Linked DNA regions of Homo sapiens. The protein of the gene in region 3 interacts with the protein of the main gene of each other region in a biochemical or structural test. Each region holds a gene or a part of one and is shown on either strand. Other genes may lie near its edges.

Region 1 (7,037 bases), on a different chromosome or scaffold from region 3:
AGATCGAGATCATCCTGGCTAACATGGTGAAACCCCGTCTCTACTAGAAATACAAAAAAAAAAAAAAAATTAGCCAGGCATGGTGGCAGGCGCCTGTAGTCCCAGCTACTCGGGAGGCTGAGGCAGGAGAATGGTGTGAACCTGGAGGCTGAGCTTGCAATGAGGCGAGATCGCGCCACTGCACTCCAGCCTGGGTGACAGAGTGACGCTCTGTCTCAAAAAAAAAAAAAAAAGTGTGCTTTAAAGTGCATTTAAAGCAAAACTACTAAAACGTTTACATGTGGCTCTTAATAGTTTTTACCTGTGACTAGGTAAAAATTAATAGGTTTCCTGATAGGGGAAAATGACCATTTTTCATTCAATATAAGTCACCATTAGGCTTCTTCACTGGCTCTTGTGCTTCTTGTCAAAGGAAAAGTAAAGTTAGTGACTCTTCACTGCCTGTTAATATAAAATAACTAGTATGAAGTGTGATTGTAGATTTACATTTAAAGGATGTCTTCTTGAAACTTTCATACCGTTTTGGGGTCATTGGTATCCGTAAGGTCATTTTGCCTGTAAAGCTTGATTCTCGCAGACTTTTGGCTGATTGTTCCTTGTAGTCATCACAAATCTATGAATAAAACCAGGAATGGGACATTGTAGCTTGTCAGTCCTCTTTTCAAACCCTGCTTAACAGTCATATTCAAGGAATTACTTATTTTATGTTTATAAATAGGATCTGCAAAGGACACAGCACAACAGGATTAGTAGCTGTGATTTTTTTTTGGAGACAGAGTCTCACTCTGTCACCCAGACTGGAATGCAGTGGCGCGATCTCGGCTCACTGCAACCTCCACCTCCCAGGTTCAAGCGATTCTTCTGCCTCAGCCTCCTGAGTAGCTGGGATTACAGGCGTGCACCACCACACCCAGCTAATTTTTGTATTTTTAGTAGAGATGGGGTTTCACCATGTTGGTCTGGCTGGTCTTGAACTCCTGATCTCGTAATCTGCCAGCCTCGGCCTCCCAAAGTGCTGGGATTACAGGCATGAGCCACTGCGTCTGGCCAGTAGCTATGATTTTTTTTTTATATCCTAAACTCTTTACTGTATCATTTGGTTACATATGTTGAGACTCTCCAGTGTGTTAGAGACAAAAACCCTGAAACCGCCACCATTGATACTTCTATCCCTTCTGATTTGGGGACTCTCAGAAGACTATACGTCCATTTTTCCCCTACCTTACCACCAGTCTGATTAATGGGCAGTGATTCTGGCTTCCCTAGTATGCCTTCTAGGTGTCAAACACACACCCAATGGCAACTTTGATTTGAGAATTAGAAACTGCTAAGATTTGAACTCTTGATTATCTGTTGTAAAGGTTCTCTAGTAACTATTCTTAATGGAAAATGATACAGTTCTCTAAATAATTTGGATTATTTGACAGTTAAGCATTCTTCCCAAATACCTTTCACTAATCTAAGTACATTTCTGTGACCATCTGTCATGATCAAATTCCTCTCCCCACCCACCCTCTAGAAACACACTCAAAATAGTCCAAGTGCACCGAGTTAGGATTTTTTATGAAAATATTCTCTTTAAGCCTTTTTCTCCTTTCATTCTCCTTCCCCCAACATAGACAACCACTCTATCGTGTTTGGTATGGATTGTTTTATTTGTGTATGTTCCCATAAAACATTATTGGAGGGTTTTATGTATTTTTATGTTTTTAATTATTATACATATCATGTATATTCATAGTTTTAAAAATGGTACAGAAGAATCTACATTGGAAAGTCAAAGTTGCCCACCCTGACAATGCCCAGGTCTGCTAGCACAAATGTCACTATTGTGTTTATAGGTAGTTTTTCAAGTACTGGATACAAATGTACGTATACTTGAAATACATAGATATTTTCATATACTCTCACATACAATCCACATTATATTAAATGTACTTCTCTTGCCTTGCATTAACCTTTAAAATTTTTTTAATTTAATTTAATTATAGATTCAAAGGAGGTTACAAAAACGTACTAGGAAGTCCTAGTATTTACTGCAAGGAAACCAGAGGTCTCTTCACCCAGTTTCCCCCAATGGTAACATCCTGCATAACCTCAGAACAGTGTCAAAACCTGGAAATAGACGTTGATACAATCCACAGATCTTAATCAGATTTCACCAGTTTTACACACACTTGTGTGTATCTGTATAGTTCTTTGTGCATATATTTTTTAAATGCCTAAGTGGCATTGTGCTACATGTTACTGTATTTCTGCCTTCACTGCTTATCCACACAGTTCTACATATAGCTAGTTTGTTGTTTCAGCTCCTGAAGAGAATCTAGTATGGGTCTTTCACCTATAACATCCTTGTTTCCTAGTAGTAGACATTTAACCAACTTCTAACTTCCTACCTCAGTAGATAATACTGCAGTGACTGTCCTCACTTATGTCCTCTTGTGGATTTGTGTCAGAATTTCACCCAGATACATCTGCAAGAGTTGGGTTGCTGGGACATTTGTATATTTGGCTTTCCAGAATGTCTGTGTAAGTCCCCATGCCCACAGCCATAGCATGAAGGTATAATTGTTTAAGATATAATCCTTGGATTTAAGAACTAGAAGGTTTATATCATGGAAAACCATTGATTGGACTGTGGAAGAAAATATTAAAAAAAAAAAACCTCTCCGACTCATAAGATATTTTTTAATTAAATTCAAGCTACAGATAATTTATAATTCCTGAATGGTATACTATCTTATAATTTCAGATCCTTTTTTCACAATCTCATTCTCTTTCCTTTTCCCATCTCCCCAAGTAGCATTTCAGAAAACACAGATTAGTAAACACAGTTTCCATTGACTTATTTTTGAGAAGAAGGCTCTTGGCAACAATATCTAAAGTTTTGAGGACATCACTTCATTTCAGGCCAGGTTGATAGTCCTAGAAAATGAAAGAAATAAGGGCAAGTAATAATTTGGCAAAAAAAAAGGGTCTTGTATAGTAAATAATCACTGTAGTTGAGATTTAGACTACCCTCCCATCATTCATCCTGCCAGTTATCATGTGCTGTGGTCACCTACACAGCTAGGAGGTTGGTGGCTCACCTGCTGCTGTAGCCAGTAACTGCTCAATGAAAAGGGAATTTTAGGCAAATTGTCACAAGACTGGCTGGATGTCATAGTTAGGCTCCTGTGAAATAAACTGATTTGTATAAAGATACATTGCTGTTCTCTGTCAGTGAACTCAGTTATTTGAAAGATACGTTTGTGATTGTATTTGTCTTACTCATTTTTGAAAACACACAGTTTGCAAAACATCTTATTTGCATTCACCGAAGTAATACCTTGTGGGCAGGATAGTCAAATGGACTATTTAAGTACCTATTAGGTATCAGCAGCTCACCTTTTTTATTCAGCTGAGCCCCCTTGGTGAGATACTTGTATTATCCTGGTTATGTTATTTAGAATCTTATAATACCTTTTATGAAATGGGTGTAGGAAAGCTATATTGACTGGTCTCAGGAGCCAGTCCATGGGACAGTATTTTTTAATTTAGTAAATTTAGTTTCCATGTCAGCATAGAATCATGGCACTTTTGTTAATTGGTTTCTATTGAGTACTTTATTTAAATTTCTTCAGTGAAAACATAGCCTTAATTTGATTTGTTAATATAAAATTATCAGCTGGAGGTAACTCCTACCAGATATTTAAGAAAACTAAATTTACTACTAGGTGTGCTCAAAATCAACAATCAGTGGGTTGTAGTGAGAAACAAGAAGCTATTAAGACTTGTAAATATGAAAATAACCCACCACAGAAAAAATTGTAAGTATATGAAGTGATGGATTTGTAACTTAGCCTGATTTAATCATTTTATGTTGTAAACTTAGATTAAAACATCACATTGTACCTCATAAATATATACAATTACTATTTGTCAATTAAATTTAAGATAAATAAGAATTTTAAAACATGAATTATTGAATGGCTAAGTGTTAGTACAGTATATGTACTTCATTAGCATATAGTATGGAACAGGATAACTTGGGTGCCAAGGTCAGAAGTTAATCTGGGAATGAGAAATATTCCTGCAGTATGGCCCCACCTATTGCAGTAACAGCTACCAAGCTGTGAGTTGTAAGTAAGTATTCACTGCTGACCAGTGAATCTCCTGCCCTTTCACTTTCCAGACGCCCTTGCACTTGGCAGTGATCACTAAGCAGGAAGATGTGGTGGAGGATTTGCTGAGGGCTGGGGCCGACCTGAGCCTTCTGGACCGCTTGGGTAACTCTGTTTTGCACCTAGCTGCCAAAGAAGGACATGATAAAGTTCTCAGTATCTTACTCAAGCACAAAAAGGCAGCACTACTTCTTGACCACCCCAACGGGGACGGTAAGAGACAATCACACATCATTGGTGTAACTTTCTCCACCTTCTAAATATCTACTAGGTATTTGATAAACGTGTGTTATTTGATTTGCACCCAAAAGTGCTTTCCTTAGTCACCTGGAGTTCATCATCTCTTTTGGGCATTTCTGTTGCTCACCAAAGCTAATTTTTTTAAAGATGATTTGGAATAGTTAGTAGGAGGAGAAAGCAGAGGCCTGAGTAAAGATTCATCTTGAAGTACACAAAGCGTCGTTTATTCAGAGAATGTTTATTTATGTTCATGTCTCCTGAGAACATAATAGGAGACTGTGGGTCTTCAAAGCAGAACAATAGACTTATAGTATCTTTACTGTCCCTCCCCATGATTCAGTTTTTGCCATTTCCTTCAGCTTCACAAGGGCCATCTTGTGAGTTAGCCATCCCATCCTGTGACTGTCCCTTTGCTTGGACTCTAGGTCTGAATGCCATTCATCTAGCCATGATGAGCAATAGCCTGCCATGTTTGCTGCTGCTGGTGGCCGCTGGGGCTGACGTCAATGCTCAGGAGCAGAAGTCCGGGCGCACAGCACTGCACCTGGCTGTGGAGCACGACAACATCTCATTGGCAGGCTGCCTGCTCCTGGAGGTGAAGGGCACACTTATTTGCTTTTGCATTAAATTTCTGAGGGAGATTTAAGGAAATCTTTTCAAAGAAGGAAGTCAGTAGCTGCTGTTCTCCCTTACAATCAGCTCTATTTGTTTAACATTTATGGAGGGCTTCAGAGTACCACCTTTAGACATTCCCCCAACCCCCTTGCTTGGCATCTCTAACTGGGGATTTCTTCAATGACAGAGCCAGCCCAAAGTAGCAATTGGGCTAGTAATAGGACCCAAGGAGCCATGCACACTGGGAGGTGGGGACAAAAGGGCAAAAGAACCTTCCACTAACGCTTTCTTGTGTGGGCTGGATTGTAGGGTGATGCCCATGTGGACAGTACTACCTACGATGGAACCACACCCCTGCATATAGCAGCTGGGAGAGGGTCCACCAGGCTGGCAGCTCTTCTCAAAGCAGCAGGTAAGATGGTGATCTGGCGGTCATTAATGAAAAATGTTACCAGGAATGCAAACCCAACTTCAATAGAGCAGTCATGTTGCCTTCTTTAAGCCACAGACCTACTGCTGAAAAACAAGGGTAAATAAAAATTATATGGCAAATCACATTTTATCTGCCATAAGGCACTGTTTGGACTAGTAATCTTGGGCTTTACCCTGATAGTCATTTTAGTTTTTACTTTCTGATTCATCTGTTTGTTTGGGGTTTGATTGTTTAGATTGACTCCCATGACAAAGGGTCTTTTCAAAGTAGAGTTTGATTCCTTATAGAATTCTGAGTGGTATTAGTCTCAGATCATATCAGAAGGCCCCAGAAGAAAAAGATTATTGGTATAAGAAATCATTTAAAGACTTCATTTTGAAAGAAATATCTCTTAGAAATTGAAGTGTAGGAAAAAGAAAATGGGCCATGTATTAAGACCCATTATGTGGAAGGCACTAAAAATGGCTAGCACTTATTGACCTTTCTGTGTACCAGGCACTGTGATATGCACTTTATGTGCACAGTCTCATTTAATGCCCAATCACCCCTTGTGACAAATACCATTATTCCCCATCTTAGAGTCAAGGAAACAGACTAGAGAGACTACCAGATCCCACTTCAGGGTTCCAGTAAGTGACAGAGCTATGAATCACACTTCGGCAGTGTGAACTTCAAGACTTTATTCTCTGTACTATGTTTCTCTCTCCTATTTTGCTCATAGGTTTGCAGATGTTATTCCATTTAATTCTCTAGTCCTGTGAAGTATAGAAAATTATCCATGCTGATCTTTGAATCTCCAGTGCCTTGCATATTTAGAACCTCAAAATATGTGTAATGAAATTGGCATCTGAAGCCTGCCCTGACATATCTGATATACTTTAGAGGCTTTTTTTTTTTTTAACTTAAAAGGTAAATGCTTCATAAATTCAAGAAAACAAAGCAAAAGACATAGGAACTTTTTCTTTGGGACACCATATTTTTCTTTTCTCTTTTGTTAAATAGAACTTTTTCTTGAACAAGAAACTCTGATTGCAGTGGGTATTAATAGTTTTAGAAGACACTGATTAATTAAATGCCTTCCAACAAGAAGCTATAACCAGCCAGACGTGATGGCTCACACCTGTAAACTCAGCACTTTGAGAGGCTGAGGTGGGAGGGTCACTTGCACTAGGAGTGTGAGACCAACCAGGTTAACATTGTAAGACCTCATCTCCATTAAAAAATTTAAAAAGTAGCCAGGCATGGTGGCATGCGCCTATAGTCGCAGCTAGTTTGGAGGCCGAGGTAGAAGTATCACTTGAGCCTGTGAGTTCAAGGGTGCAGTGAGCTACAGTTTCACCACTGCACTCCAGCCTGAGCTATAGAATAAGAATAAGACCCTGTCTCAAAAAAAAAAAAGAAAAAGAAAGAAACTATAACCCTTTTAAAAATGCTTTATATTGAATTCTCAGAATCCCATGAAAGGAAAAGCAAGTAACAGTTTCTCTGATATATAAATGAAGAAACTCAGATGAAAAACCAAGTCCTAATCTTAATGTCGTGGAAAAGGTCAGTTAAGTCCGAGTGTGGTGGCTCACACCTGTAAT
Region 2 (7,037 bases), on a different chromosome or scaffold from region 3:
AGCACAGGGGGCTCCCCGTCTCCTCTGAATCCTGTCTAAAGATAATAATGAGGGCTGTTACTTGGAACATTTTCTAATAACATGCTATAGATGCTTAGGGTTTATGGGAAGGGGGGATGGTACTGGGGGTGGGGGATAAAGGACAAAAACGTAATAAAGTAAACACAGGAAAGGAGCAGCATGTGTTTGGAAGCTGAGCATAGGCACTCCCTCTGAGCAGTGGAGTTGAGTCCTGACTGCAGCACATGCAGGTGAGGAAGCAGTAGAAGGAGTCCGTCTTCTGTCCCCTTCCCATCCCTTCTGACATGTTCTTATCTTGAAATCGCCGCCCCTGAACTCCCAGGGTACTTACTGTGTGCTGCTCTCACTCTGTAGCCCTGTCTGTGTATGTCCCATGTCCTGAAAGCCCACCCGAGGAGGAGCTGTCTTCTTTGTCTTTATGTTCCCCACAGCACTTGTCTCTGGCACAAGGCAGAATCTTAATAACTTCAGTGGCATGAATCCATCGAGGAGCAGATGGGAAGCAGAGTCACAGTGTCACACCAGACAGATTATGTTCAAGCAAATAGTCCCAATAAGAAGTAGTGAGGGGCCGGCCGGGCGCAGTGGCTCACACCTGTAATCCCAGCCCTTTGGGAGACTGAGGTGGGCAAATCACCTGAGGTCTGGAGTTCAAGACCAGTCTGACCAACATGGAGAAACCCCGTCTCTACTAAAAATACAAAATTAGCTGGGCATGGTGGCACATGCCTGTAATCCCAGCTACTCTGGAGGCTGAGGCAGGAGAATGGCTTGAACCCTGGAGGCGGAGGTTGCTGTGAGCCAAGATCACGCCATTGCACTCCAGCCTGGGCAACAAGAGCGAAACTCTGTCTCAAAAAAAAAAAAAGTGAGGGGCTGGGCACAGTGGCTCATGCCTGTAATCCCAGCACTTTGGGAGGCTGAGACGGGTGAATCACTTGAGGCCAGGAGTTTGTGACCAGCCTGGCCAACATGGTGAAACCCCGTCCCTACCAAAAAATACCGGAAGTTAGCCAGGCACAGTGGTGCACATCTGTAATCCCAGCTACTTGGGAGGTTGAGGCATGAGAATTGATTGAACTCAGGAGACGGAGGTTGCAGTTAGCTGAGATTGTGCCACCGCACTCCACCCAGCCTGGCGGCAGAGCAAGGCTCCATCTCAAAACATATATATATATATAATATATATATGTGTGTGTGTGTGTGTGTGTGTGTACTCTCTGGCATTTTTTTGTTGGCTCCATTCTTGGGCATACCGCCAGACGAGATGGCTGTGGGCAGCCTCATGCCTGTCTCCTGCAGAAAGAGGACTGCAGAAGCACTTTAGCTAGACATCAGTTCTGACTGGCCAGGTATAGGACCGTCAGGGAAAATGGAGGTGTGTCCCCAGAAATGGGAGTGTACACTATGCAAGCAGAACCCACTGGCGAGCATTGCAGGGACATCAGCCCTTGGCTTGTTACTGTCATAGCAGAGCAAATTCATATGTATCTTAAGTCATTCTTTTCAATGTTTTTCAGCATCTTCATGATACAGTTAAGAGGAATCTTGACAGCGCCACTTCCCCTCAGAATGGCGATCAACAGAATGGCTACGGGGACCTCTTTCCTGGGCATAAGAAGACTCGCCGGGAGGCCCCTCTGGGAGTTGCCATCTCTTCCAATGGACTGCCTCCAGCCTCCCCCCTCGGTCAGTCTGACAAGCCTTCTGGAGCCGACGCCCTGCAGTCCAGTGGGAAGCACTCTCTGGGGCTAGACTCTCTCAACAAAAAGCGTCTGGCTGACTCCAGCCTTCACTTGAATGGAGGCAGTAACCCCAGTGAGTCATTTCCTCTGAGCCTGAATAAAGAACTGAAGCAGGAGCCTGTCGAAGACCTGCCTTGCATGATCACTGGGACTGTCGGCTCCATATCGCAAAGCAACCTCATGCCAGACCTCAACCTTAACGAGCAGGAGTGGAAGGAGCTCATCGAGGAGCTGAACAGGTCGGTGCCCGATGAAGACATGAAGGACCTGTTTAATGAGGACTTCGAGGAGAAGAAGGACCCAGAGTCTTCTGGCTCTGCCACACAAACCCCCTTGGCACAGGACATTAATATTAAGACGGAATTCTCTCCAGCAGCCTTTGAGCAAGAACAGTTAGGCTCTCCACAAGTGAGGGCCGGGTCTGCAGGGCAGACCTTTCTGGGGCCTTCCTCTGCCCCTGTGAGTACAGATTCCCCCAGCCTAGGGGGCTCCCAAACCTTATTCCACACCTCTGGTCAGCCCCGGGCGGACAATCCCAGTCCAAACCTGATGCCGGCATCAGCCCAGGCCCAGAACGCACAAAGAGCCCTTGCAGGTGTGGTATTGCCCAGTCAGGGCCCAGGAGGGGCCTCAGAGCTGTCCTCTGCCCACCAGCTCCAGCAGATCGCTGCCAAGCAGAAGCGCGAGCAGATGCTCCAGAACCCACAGCAGGCCACCCCGGCACCAGCCCCGGGCCAGATGTCCACATGGCAGCAGACGGGGCCCTCCCACAGTTCCTTAGATGTCCCTTACCCCATGGAGAAGCCTGCCAGCCCTTCCAGCTACAAGCAAGACTTCACTAACTCCAAACTGCTCATGATGCCTAGTGTGAATAAGAGTTCCCCTCGGCCCGGAGGCCCCTACCTCCAGCCCAGCCATGTGAACCTGCTGAGTCACCAGCCACCGAGTAACTTGAATCAGAACTCCGCGAATAACCAGGGGTCTGTGCTGGACTACGGCAATACAAAACCCCTTTCTCATTACAAAGCGGACTGTGGGCAAGGCAGCCCGGGGTCTGGCCAGAGCAAGCCAGCCCTGATGGCTTATCTTCCCCAGCAGCTGTCCCATATAAGTCACGAGCAGAACTCCCTGTTTCTGATGAAGCCAAAGCCAGGAAATATGCCTTTCCGATCACTGGTTCCACCTGGCCAGGTAAGTATGAGCCTTTGCTTTCTGTTCCTCTGCTGCAGACACTTCAGTGAGGTTACTCACTACTTTGGATGTTAATTGGATCCGAGGTAGTTGTGGGAAGAGGGAGGAGGGAATAGCTGCTGTCATCCTTGCTCCTCTTGGGAGTGGAAATTTATAAAATAAACCAGGGTTGATTGTTAATAAAAAATAGGGTAAAGTTCCCTGGCATAGCTTGATTATTAACTGCACGAAGGTTTCAGGAATCACCTGCATTTAGTCCACTGTCTCTTTCGTGCCGTAGGATTTAAATTAAGTAATTTGCGACTGTGTTTTGCAGATAAACATTACGTTTCACGTGCTTCTTAGAGGCTTGGCTTTTTTTTTTTTTTTTTTTTTTTACTACCTTTCAGATCTCCATGTACAAAATTCCCTAATTTTTGGTAAGCTTATAACATTGTAGGCATGTGCTGCTTCCCAGCACAGCTCAGCTCTGTGCTTACTTCATCATGGTTCTAAAGCCCGGTAGCATCAAATGGAAAATGGCCCTTCGGGTTGTTTCCTGTTTTCCGCTAGTGCAGATAAGCCTGCAGTGAACGTGAATTTGTAATACATGCTAAAATTTTGCAAATTAAAAAGCCCAGTGCCGGTAATATCATGAGGAAATAGACACACTCCTGTATTGATGAGAGTGTGTAAATGAGCTCACTGCTTTTGGGAAGTCATTTGACATTATGTATTTTTCACATGCTGTAAAATGTTCATATGCATTGACACACTATATACCCGACAAGTTGATCTAAAGAAATAATCCAAAATAAAAGAAAAAGTTATATCCAAGATATTCATTGTGTGGTTATTTCTAATAGCCAAAAACTGTAAGCCATTTAAGCATCTCCCAGTGCTGATAATTCCACTTACTTCAGCCAGTAAGATGTCTCACGCCGTTCAGCACCCCCTGAAGAGAGGCTCAGCTGCACACAGTGAGGGTGCTTGCCATCTGGGTAGCACTTTGCAACTTACGAAGCACTCTCAGTAGTTCTTAAGCTTCTGGTGATTAGAGTGAAGAAATTATACCAGAATCTTAGAATGAATAACTAGAAAGGAGCTCAACAATTTGAACTGGTTTAAATAATGATTGCTTTTTGCCTATCTTCTGCTAAGTTCCCCTTTTCTTCTAAGTGTCAGTAATGACGGGATAATATTGTGGTGGCCTTTGACATGACTCTCACTTGTGGTCTATATATTGACAGAGAATATCTGTTAAAGTTCTCATTGATTCTCAGTATTTTTTGAGGATGGGTATTTGACAAAAGCTAAGCAGTCTCTTCCAGTAAAATGCTTGCGCAGATGTACAGTTTCGGGTCGTTCAGGGATAGCCCGAAATCCAAGGTTTATGCACATGGGACAGAGTGGTCTCCATTGACCAAAGCCCCCTTCAAAGTGTTCTTCCCCTAGGCCGGGTGCAGTGGCTCATGCCTGTAATCCCAGCACTTTGAGAGGCCGAGGTGGGTGGAGCACCTGAGGTCGGGAGTTCGAGACCAGCGTGACCAACATGGAGAAACCCCCATCTCTACTAAAAATACAAAATTAGCCAGGTGTGGTGGCACATGCCTCTAATCCCAGCTACTCAGGAGGCTGAGGCAGGGGAATCGCTTGAATTCGGGAGGCAGAGGTTGCGGTGAGCCAAGATCGTGCCATTGCACTCCAGCCTGGGCAACAAGAGCGAAACTCCGTCTGAAAAAAAACAAAAAGTATTCTTCCCCTATTGGCCCGCTCTGCACTCAGATGTCCTGATAAGTGAGCATTTCTAAGCCTCGATTGCTTACTGGAACTATTGTGTGCAAATATGAAAGCTTACATATGCTTAACGTAAAACCATACCTTTGTCACTGGTGAATCACTGGGAGTAAAACTAACACCTATGGAGTAATTGTTCGTTGCTAGGCGCCTGTATGCTCAGATGTCATCACTTTTGGTCTGTGCTCCAGCCCTGTGGGATGGTTGTTATTCGAGGTCAGAAGGGAAGCAGAGACTTGGCTTCAAGAGAGTGAACCTTGAATTCACTGGATGGAGCTTATTTGGTCTGATCAGAGCTTAGAGACTTCACAGTCCCCTATCTGTGTTGACAGGAGCAGAACCCTTCCAGTGTCCCTGTGCAAGCCCAGGCTACCAGTGTTGGGACCCAGCCGCCTGCCGTGTCCGTGGCCAGCTCCCACAACAGCTCCCCCTATCTCAGCAGCCAGCAACAGGCCGCTGTAATGAAGCAGCATCAGTTGCTTTTGGACCAACAGAAACAAAGGGAGCAGCAGCAAAAGCATTTACAGCAACAGCAGTTCCTTCAGAGGCAACAGCACCTTCTCGCGGAACAGGTAAAAAGAAAAGTGGAAGGAAACCACCGCTTCCCACCTTTGCCTGCACCCTGCGTCACTGCTACAGTCACACCTTCTGCTTGTGCGTGTGGATTTGCGCAGACTTGCGTGCCTGTTGTTAGAGTGCTTTGCCTTTTAAAAACATCTTTCCAGGAATGTGGCATTTCTCAGACAGGGGTAGTCTTGTCAGAAGCTGCTTCGTGTCACTTAGTGGAGAGTACTCAAGGCAGACTCGGGGGCTAAAACTGTTTGTGGAAGGGACATTTTCCTATGTTTCAGGTCAGCAGCTTCCAAGCCACTGAGCTCACGTGTCTGTCATTCCACTATGGAGTCAGCTTTGCTGCCACTACAGAGCCTGTTATAAGCCAGAACGTGAAGAGGGAAGTGAAGTCATCCCTGAGGGAAACACAGTTCACTCGCTTGGTTAGCAAGTGTAGTGTGCAGGCACTAAGGGTTACAAGTGAGAGTTCTTTTTTTTTTTTGGAGACAGAGTCTTGCTGTCACCCAGGCTGGACTGCAGTGGTGCGATCTTGGCTCACTGCAGCCTCCACCTCATGGGTTCATGCAATTCTCCTGCCTCAGCCTCCCGAGTAGCTGGGACTACAGGCAAGAACCACCATGCCTGGCTAATTTTTGTGTTTTTAGTAGAGATGGGGTTTCACCACGTTGGCCAGGCTGGTCTTGAGCTCCTGACCTCAAGTGATCCACTCATCTCGGCCTCCCAAAGTGCTGAGATTACAGGCGTGAGCCACCACGCCTGGCCTTAAATTACATCTTTAAGACATAAGAACTGGCTCCAGACAGTGAGGTTCATTGAGGACAATCCCTGCCTCAGTTCTGCCTTTAAGAAAAGCAGCTTTATTGTGATGTAACTCACACAGCATACACTTCACCCACGTAAGTGAACAATTTAGTCATTTTTAGTATATCACAGAGTTGTGCAACCATTACCACAATCCATTTTAGAACATTTTCATTACCCTAAAACAAATCCCATACCCATGAGCAGCCATTCTCCCATCCACCCTGCCTCTCCAGCTCCTGATCTACTTTCTGTCTCTATAATTGTCTGCTCTGGGCTGGGCGCAGTGGCTCACTCCTATAATCCCAGCACTTTGGGAGGCCGAGGTGGGCGGATCACGAGGTCAGGAGATCAAGACCATCCTGGCTAACACAGTGAAACCCCGTCTCTACTAAAAATACAAAAAATTAGCCAAGTGTGGTGACGGGCGCCTGTAGTCCCAGCTACTCGGGAGGCCGAGGCAGGAGAATGGCGTGAACCTGGGAGGGGAGCTTGCAGTGAGCAGAGATCGCGCCACTGCACTCCAGCCTGGGCGACAGAGCAAGACTCCATCTCAAAAAAAAAAAATTGTCTGTTCTGGACATTTTATATTTATGTTATGTCATTTTCAATCATGTGCTAGGTAACAGCAATTGATTCCTCTTGATAATAATATTCCATTGTATGGACATGTTACATTTTATTCATTCGTCTGTTCATGAACATTTGGGTTTCTTGTTTGGGCTGTTAATGAGTATTGCTGCTATGAACATTCATGTACAAGTTTTCATATAGACATCTGTTTTCATTTTTCTTGGGTAGATACCTGGGAGTGGAATTGCTGGATCACATGGTAATTTTTATGTTTAACCTTTGGAGGAACTGTCAGACTGTTTCCCACAGGCTGTCTCATTTTACATTCCCACCAGCGGTGTATGAGGGTGCTGATTT
Region 3 (7,037 bases):
GCCCAGCAGGCCAAGAGGGAGCAGCCAGCCCTGAGGCCAGGCTTAAGTACCTTCTGCCTCTGTGGCTCACCAGCACCTTTGAGCAGGTCCCTCTGCCTCTCTGGGCCTCAGATTCTCATCAGTCAGGGCTGCAGTAGCCCCTGCCCCTGGGGCCCCTGGGAGGATGACTTGAGTGGGCACTGGTGCCCGGGGAGGCTGGCACATGGCACATTGTGATCCAAGATGGTTTCTGACACCTGGAAGGATGTGGCCAGAAGGGTGATCGCCCCGGCTCAACAGACAGGGAAATCGAGGTTGACGTGGGTGGGACCCCCTGGGCGCTGGGCCTCGGAGTCTGACCCGCCCTGCCCTTAGGGAGCATGTGTAACATCAACATCGATGAGTGTGCGGGCAACCCCTGCCACAACGGGGGCACCTGCGAGGACGGCATCAATGGCTTCACCTGCCGCTGCCCCGAGGGCTACCACGACCCCACCTGCCTGTCTGAGGTCAATGAGTGCAACAGCAACCCCTGCGTCCACGGGGCCTGCCGGGACAGCCTCAACGGGTATGCGGCGGGGCCGATCATGGGGACACATCAGTCCTAAACCCTGGGAGCTCTGCTGCCAGGAGGGTGGCACCTGCACAGAGCTTGAGATGGGCCAGAAACGGGCCTCGGACGGGGCTGGGTGGCAGGGAGCTCCCCTCGGGGACGCACATGCCTCTGGGTCCTCAGTCAGACTACAGTCCACACCCAGCAGCTGTGTGCTGCGTGTCCTTGTGGGCTGCATGGTGTGCTCAGGACACAGGCCCACAGTGACCCTGGAACACGTTTCCATGGTAACAGCCGCAAGTGTTTCTGATGCCCATGATGTGCCTGGCAGCACTCTGCCTGGATGGGACCATTTAAATCAGCAGGGACCCCATTGCCCTCATTTGGCGCAGAGAAGGCACGTGCTTTGTTCGGGGCCACACAGCGGGCAAGTGGTGGGGGGCTTTTCGCAGCACCCTACTGCCCTGCACTTGGCATGGTCCCCTCGCTAATGAACCAAACCCCTGCCGCAGTCTTGGGTATGGGAAGCGCTGCGGCCCCCACTTTTTTCTTTATTTTGAGACAGAGCCTTGCTCTGTTGTCCAGGCTGGAGTGCAATGGCATGATCTCAGCTCACTGCAACCTCCACCCCTCAGGTTCAAGTGATTCCCCTGCCTCAGCCTCCCGAGTAGCTGAGATTACAGGCATGTGCCACCACACCTGGCTAATTTTTGTATTTTTAGTATATATGGGGTGGGGGAGTTTCGCCATGTTGGCCAGGCTGATCTTGAACTCCTGGCCTCAAGTGACTCAGCCACCCCCGCCTCCCAAAGTGCTGGGATTACAGGTGTGAGCCACAGCGCCCAGCCTGCCCCCACTAAAGGACTCTGCGAGTCTGAGTGGATGGGCACCTCCGCCAGCCCATAGGGCATTGCAGACCCGGGAGTGCCCAGGCCCCGGCCGTGCTGCTCGGGCCTCCCTCGACCTGCAGTGTGGTCCCCCTTGCAGGTACAAGTGCGACTGTGACCCTGGGTGGAGTGGGACCAACTGTGACATCAACAACAATGAGTGTGAATCCAACCCTTGTGTCAACGGCGGCACCTGCAAAGACATGACCAGTGGCTACGTGTGCACCTGCCGGGAGGGCTTCAGCGGTGAGTGGGCTGCGCGTTTCTCAGTGCAGAGGGCCGCCCTCGAGTCTGGGGAGCTGGAGACACAGGATCGGGACCCAGGTCCAGCCAGCACCATGCATGGTGTCTCCCTCCCGTGGCAAAGCCTTAGCTCCAGGCCTCTGGCTCTTGGAGATGAGGAGGGGCCTGGGGTGGGGAGCAGGCCCAGGGCTGCTGTTGTGGGGCCCTGCCAAGGTGCCTGGGAGTGCTGGACATGCCGAGTGCTGTCCCCTTCCCTCCAGGTCCCAACTGCCAGACCAACATCAACGAGTGTGCGTCCAACCCATGTCTGAACCAGGGCACGTGTATTGACGACGTTGCCGGGTACAAGTGCAACTGCCTGCTGCCCTACACAGGTGAGGGGTGGGTGGGGCCTGTGCTGGAGGGGGCGGGGCCTATGTGGGAGGGGCGGGACCTGTGCTGGAGAGGGCGGAGCCTGTGCTGGAGAGGGTGGGGCCAGGGGTGGGGGCGGCCTGGGAAGCCGTGACTGGAGGGTAAAGTGGTGGCTTTCTTGGGGCGGGGCCTTCCAGAAGGTTCTGCGCCTCACTGAGTGCCTTAGGCCCCTGCAGTATGTGGGCCTTCTCCCGGGGGTGGGGTTGGCAGATTAGCAAAGATACAGGATGCCTGGGAGAAAATTTTCATGCAAGCATGTGTTTTACCTGGCAAGCCTGCCGCAAGACACAGGTAAGATGCAGGTGAATCCTTAGCAGGGCCGGGCCTGGGTCACTGGGCTCCGTGCTCCCGGCGCCCACCCTGCTGGGGTCTCTGGGGGCCGGGCTTCCCCACCCCCGCCAGCCGGACCTGAGGGATTCCTTTGATGGCGGGCTCTCTTTGTGTGAGCGGAACAAGGAGCCCTCTGTTTGGGCTGAGCGGGGAGGGGGATGTTCCCCCAACTGTCCAGCCCCTGCTATGAACCCAGCCAAGGGGATCACAGGAAATGATCTCCTCTAGAAAAGACAAAGAAGAGTCCACAAGCACCGGGGTCCTGGCGCTCCCCAGGAGCGGGCAGAGGGTGCTGCCACGGGGCCTGGTCAGGGAGGGCCTGCCTGGGCCAGGCAGCCGGGCTGGAGGTCCCACGCCTGCGGTTCCCATGACATCCAGCAGCCTGTGGCCAGAACGCTGTTTTCTTTGACCGAAGTTAAGGACCTGGGTTTTCTCTCCTGTGTCAGTCAGTGAGGACCCTCCCTCCACGGCTGGGCGCCCCTGTCCCTTTCAGACACGTCGATCGGGCCGGCAGGAGGAGCGGCGGTGCTGACCCGCTTCCTATCTGCCCGCTTCCTGCTTCCTTTCGCACAATTGTCGGAAACTCTGGCGCAGTTCCTGCCTGCCCGGGTCACCGTGGAAACCAATAGGAAGAGAGGCCCTGGAAAGTCGCCCCAGCAGGCCAGGGAGATAATGGGGGACAGGGAAGATAACGCAGTCCCCACGGCTATAAACAGGAAGCTCGGCCATGGGCTTGTGCAGAAAAAGGCCCTCGGCTGTGCACGTGGTTCCCACATAGCCTTTGCCAGACACCCTGCGTGGCCCTGGAGGTCTCCAGGCCGTGCCCCGTGCCCCGACACGCAGGATGTGCTGGGGGCCTGGGCCTGTCCCCTCCATCGCAGCCCTTGTTTGTTGGCCTCCCGTGATGGGCGTTTGCTGCCTGTGACACGGAGCCCCAGGATTAGTTTCAGGCCTCGGTCTCAGGCCAGGGCCTTTCCTCGTCACCCAGAGATGAGGGGGCTTGCGTCCGGGGTGGGCCCAGGTCCCTGCAGTGTCGTGGAGCCCACCCGACTGAGGCCGCCTCTCCTGGTGCAGTCCTTGTTCCTGGGCACGCCTGGTGGGGTGAGGCCTAGGCTGTGCCCCGCTGCCAACCGGGAATGAGGGGTGGCTTCTGAGCGTGACATTTGTGCAGCTTGTCTTCAGCGTCCCCCCATCTGTGCTCCACTCCTCCCTGGGTCAGGGTCCTGGCACAGCCGGGAGCGCTCAGGGGTCTCGGTGCACATTTGCCTCCCGGCGGGACCAGCAGACGGCACTCTGATGGCGGAAAGACCAGCAGGCGGTGGCCGATTTGGGAGATCCCTCTGGGTGAGGCTCCCGGGGTCACGTGTGTCTCCTTCCCGCAGGTGCCACGTGTGAGGTGGTGCTGGCCCCGTGTGCCCCCAGCCCCTGCAGAAACGGCGGGGAGTGCAGGCAATCCGAGGACTATGAGAGCTTCTCCTGTGTCTGCCCCACGGGCTGGCAAGGTGAGGCTGGCCAGGGCCCGGTGAGGGCTGGGATGGGAGGTCAGGATGTCTGCGGGACACAGGCAGCTCCCAGGCAGGCTAGATGAGTCTTTGAAGAGGAGCTGGTGGGTGCTGAGGAGGCCCTGGTCGGAGAAGTTCTGGAATCAGGAATTGACCTGGGAGCACCGTTCCCAACTCCAGTTCCTGTGACCTTCTTAGGCCAAAATTAGGGGAGAGGGGATGGTCCTGGGGTCACGGAAGCCTACTCCTGGGTCGGGAGAGGCACTGTAGGTGGGTGGGCCAGCCTGGGAAGGGCCTGGAGGGCCAGGGGCCGCTGGTGACCAACCGGCCTCCTCCTGCCCCGCAGGGCAGACCTGTGAGGTCGACATCAACGAGTGCGTTCTGAGCCCGTGCCGGCACGGCGCATCCTGCCAGAACACCCACGGCGGCTACCGCTGCCACTGCCAGGCCGGCTACAGTGGGCGCAACTGCGAGACCGACATCGACGACTGCCGGCCCAGTGAGTAGCCCCGCGGCTCTGGCCTCCTCCAGGAAGCTCTCAGGCCTCAGTTCCCCCGGGCAGGGTTGGTGCGCATGGTGCTGGCCATAAGCACCCAGGGAGGCCGGAGTGTGGCCGGGGAGGGTTGGGTCAGGTGTGGGGGATGTGCTGAGGGATGGCCAGGGTGGTTCAGGAGGGCCCCAGAGCCGGCTTGCTCCTCCCTGCACTTCGCGGAAGAGTCACGAGAGCCCCTCCCACGGCTCTTCACTGAGCCGAGGATGGCTCGGGCCCGGCCTGCACTCCCGCCTGGCTCATCGGGCCCCGCTGCAGGCCAGGGCTCTCAGGCCTCCCAGCCCTGCTTCACAGAGGTTGAGGTTGGCAGAAGCCGGGGGTCTTGCTGGCATCACCTGGCAGGCAGAGGCAAGAACTGTCTCTCCTCCCCTGCTCGGTCTGTGAAGCCTGCAAAGCTGCCCCCTGCCCTGGAGCTTGAGGACAGGAGCAGGTGGGGAGAGAGACCCCAAGCACAGGAGACGGGTGTGACGCAGCCTGTGGGTGCTGGGGCTCCCCACCAGACACCTTTGTCACAGGGCTGCTTGCCGCAGCCTCGGCAACGAAAGGCTGGGCTGTCCCCAGCCATGCAGCCTTCCCGGCCCCCTCCCGCAGGTGTGGGTTTGTGCCTGCCCCTCACACTCACCCTTCCGTCCTCTCCCAGACCCGTGTCACAACGGGGGCTCCTGCACAGACGGCATCAACACGGCCTTCTGCGACTGCCTGCCCGGCTTCCGGGGCACTTTCTGTGAGGAGGACATCAACGAGTGTGCCAGTGACCCCTGCCGCAACGGGGCCAACTGCACGGACTGCGTGGACAGCTACACGTGCACCTGCCCCGCAGGCTTCAGCGGGATCCACTGTGAGAACAACACGCCTGACTGCACAGAGAGGTGTGCGGGGCTCGAGTGAGGCCGTGGAAGGGAACGGGCGGTGCGGGCCACACGCAGTAGCTGGCAGCCTGGCACACCATGCAGGCGTCCGCCTAGGCCGGCTGGGCACTTAGCGCTGGCTGCATTGAGTCCAGACATTGTTCATTGTACCGACCTGTCCCTCCTGAGAGGGCCATTGTGACCTCCTCCTGTGTCCCGCACCAGGAGCGCCGGTAGTCTGTCCTGAAGAACTGGTGCGCTTCCTTCTATTAGACAACGAGAACTCTGTCCGTTCTTGTTTCCTTTTTGCCGTGTTTGCCAGGAAGCTCATTTGGTAAACGTCAGTCTCGTCCCTGGTTTCTGACGTAATTACCTCCCGTGTTACCAGGACGGTTTCTGGTTTCTCCCTCATTTACTTTAACCACCCTATGCCCACGCGTTTGGTAAAACCACTCTCGACCTGACTTATAAAGAAAGCAGGGGAGGGAGGTGTGACGTGGTGTGAGAGCCGGGCCCCGGGTTCCCACTGGCCTCCCTGGGTCAGCCAGGCTGCCCTGGGCCTGTCCTGGCCATCAGGCCCCTAGGGTTGAGCAGAAGGGGAGGTGCTGGCGAGGCAGAATCTGCTGGAGCGGGGACCCACCAATGCCCTCCACTCAGCCCCCGCCTGCCCACCCCCTTGCAGCTCCTGCTTCAACGGTGGCACCTGCGTGGACGGCATCAACTCGTTCACCTGCCTGTGTCCACCCGGCTTCACGGGCAGCTACTGCCAGCACGATGTCAATGAGTGCGACTCACAGCCCTGCCTGCATGGCGGCACCTGTCAGGACGGCTGCGGCTCCTACAGGTGCACCTGCCCCCAGGGCTACACTGGCCCCAACTGCCAGGTGAGTGCGCCGGCCACAGAGGTGCCCGAAGGAGGGGCCCTGGGTGGGTGCCTACCTGCGGGAGGTGGGAACGGTCACCCCAGGTCCCACTGTGTCGGCTCGGGGTCACCCCCACACCCCCGGGCAGAGGGTTTCTGGGGATCTGAGCAGCCGGTGAAGGAACCTGATGCGGAAGCAGCAGGCACCTTCGTTTCAATCCCAGGTTTCTGGAGCCGGGGCAGGAGCTCAGGAATTGGGGAATTGAGGAAAAGTGTTCCTTCTAGCAAAGGCCGAGGGTGGTCTGGACCTGCTGAGGGCCCTGAGGGAGACCCAGCCCAGGCTGTTCCTGGTGTGGGGGTGGTGGGGAGTCCAGGGGCGGCAGTTTCCACTTCTGTAGAATGGGTTGCAGCCTGGGTTGGAGTAGGCCCCTTGGCAGATGTGCGTTCTGAGCTACCGGGGAAATGGCCGGGGCGCGGGCACCCAGCTGACCCCAATCTGTCCCCAGAACCTTGTGCACTGGTGTGACTCCTCGCCCTGCAAGAACGGCGGCAAATGCTGGCAGACCCACACCCAGTACCGCTGCGAGTGCCCCAGCGGCTGGACCGGCCTTTACTGCGACGTGCCCAGCGTGTCCTGTGAGGTGGCTGCGCAGCGACAAGGTAACCTGCTGTGCCCACCCAGCTCGGGTCCCAGCCCATCAAGGTCCTCTGTGGGCCTGGGCCTCACCTGTCTACCACCCCATCCCCCGCAGGTGTTGACGTTGCCCGCCTGTGCCAGCATGGAGGGCTCTGTGTGGACGCGGGCAACACGCACCACTGCCGCTGCCAGGCGGGCTACACAGGCAGCTACTGTGAGGACCTGGTGGACGAGT

What was found. Proteins that work in one complex are often made in the same cells at the same time.
Region 1: the proteins of NOTCH1 (region 3) and NFKB1 form a complex in vitro, tested with the Homo sapiens proteins (2 studies listed by BioGRID).
Region 2: the proteins of NOTCH1 (region 3) and MAML1 form a complex in vitro, tested with the Homo sapiens proteins (2 studies listed by BioGRID).

What each region holds. Positions count from the first base shown.
Region 1 is NC_000004.12:102,602,322-102,609,358, forward strand, and holds part of NFKB1 (nuclear factor NF-kappa-B p105 subunit), read left to right. Parts: intron 1-193; exon of another isoform or gene 194-665; intron 666-4,174; coding exon 4,175-4,376; intron 4,377-4,828; coding exon 4,829-4,998; intron 4,999-5,327; coding exon 5,328-5,430; intron 5,431-7,037.
Region 2 is NC_000005.10:179,763,785-179,770,821, forward strand, and holds part of MAML1 (mastermind-like protein 1), read left to right. Parts: intron 1-1,541; coding exon 1,542-2,957; intron 2,958-5,065; coding exon 5,066-5,305; intron 5,306-7,037. UniProt on the Homo sapiens protein: Acts as a transcriptional coactivator for NOTCH proteins. Has been shown to amplify NOTCH-induced transcription of HES1. Enhances phosphorylation and proteolytic turnover of the NOTCH intracellular domain in the nucleus through interaction with CDK8.
Region 3 is NC_000009.12:136,508,020-136,515,056, reverse strand, and holds part of NOTCH1 (neurogenic locus notch homolog protein 1 preproprotein), read left to right. Parts: intron 1-354; coding exon 355-547; intron 548-1,519; coding exon 1,520-1,665; intron 1,666-1,922; coding exon 1,923-2,036; intron 2,037-2,315; exon of another isoform or gene 2,316-3,785; coding exon 3,786-3,905; exon of another isoform or gene 3,906-4,027; intron 4,028-4,251; coding exon 4,252-4,404; intron 4,405-5,077; exon of another isoform or gene 5,078-5,095; coding exon 5,096-5,324; exon of another isoform or gene 5,325-5,584; intron 5,585-5,985; coding exon 5,986-6,187; intron 6,188-6,671; coding exon 6,672-6,825; intron 6,826-6,917; coding exon 6,918-7,037. UniProt on the Homo sapiens protein: Functions as a receptor for membrane-bound ligands Jagged-1 (JAG1), Jagged-2 (JAG2) and Delta-1 (DLL1) to regulate cell-fate determination.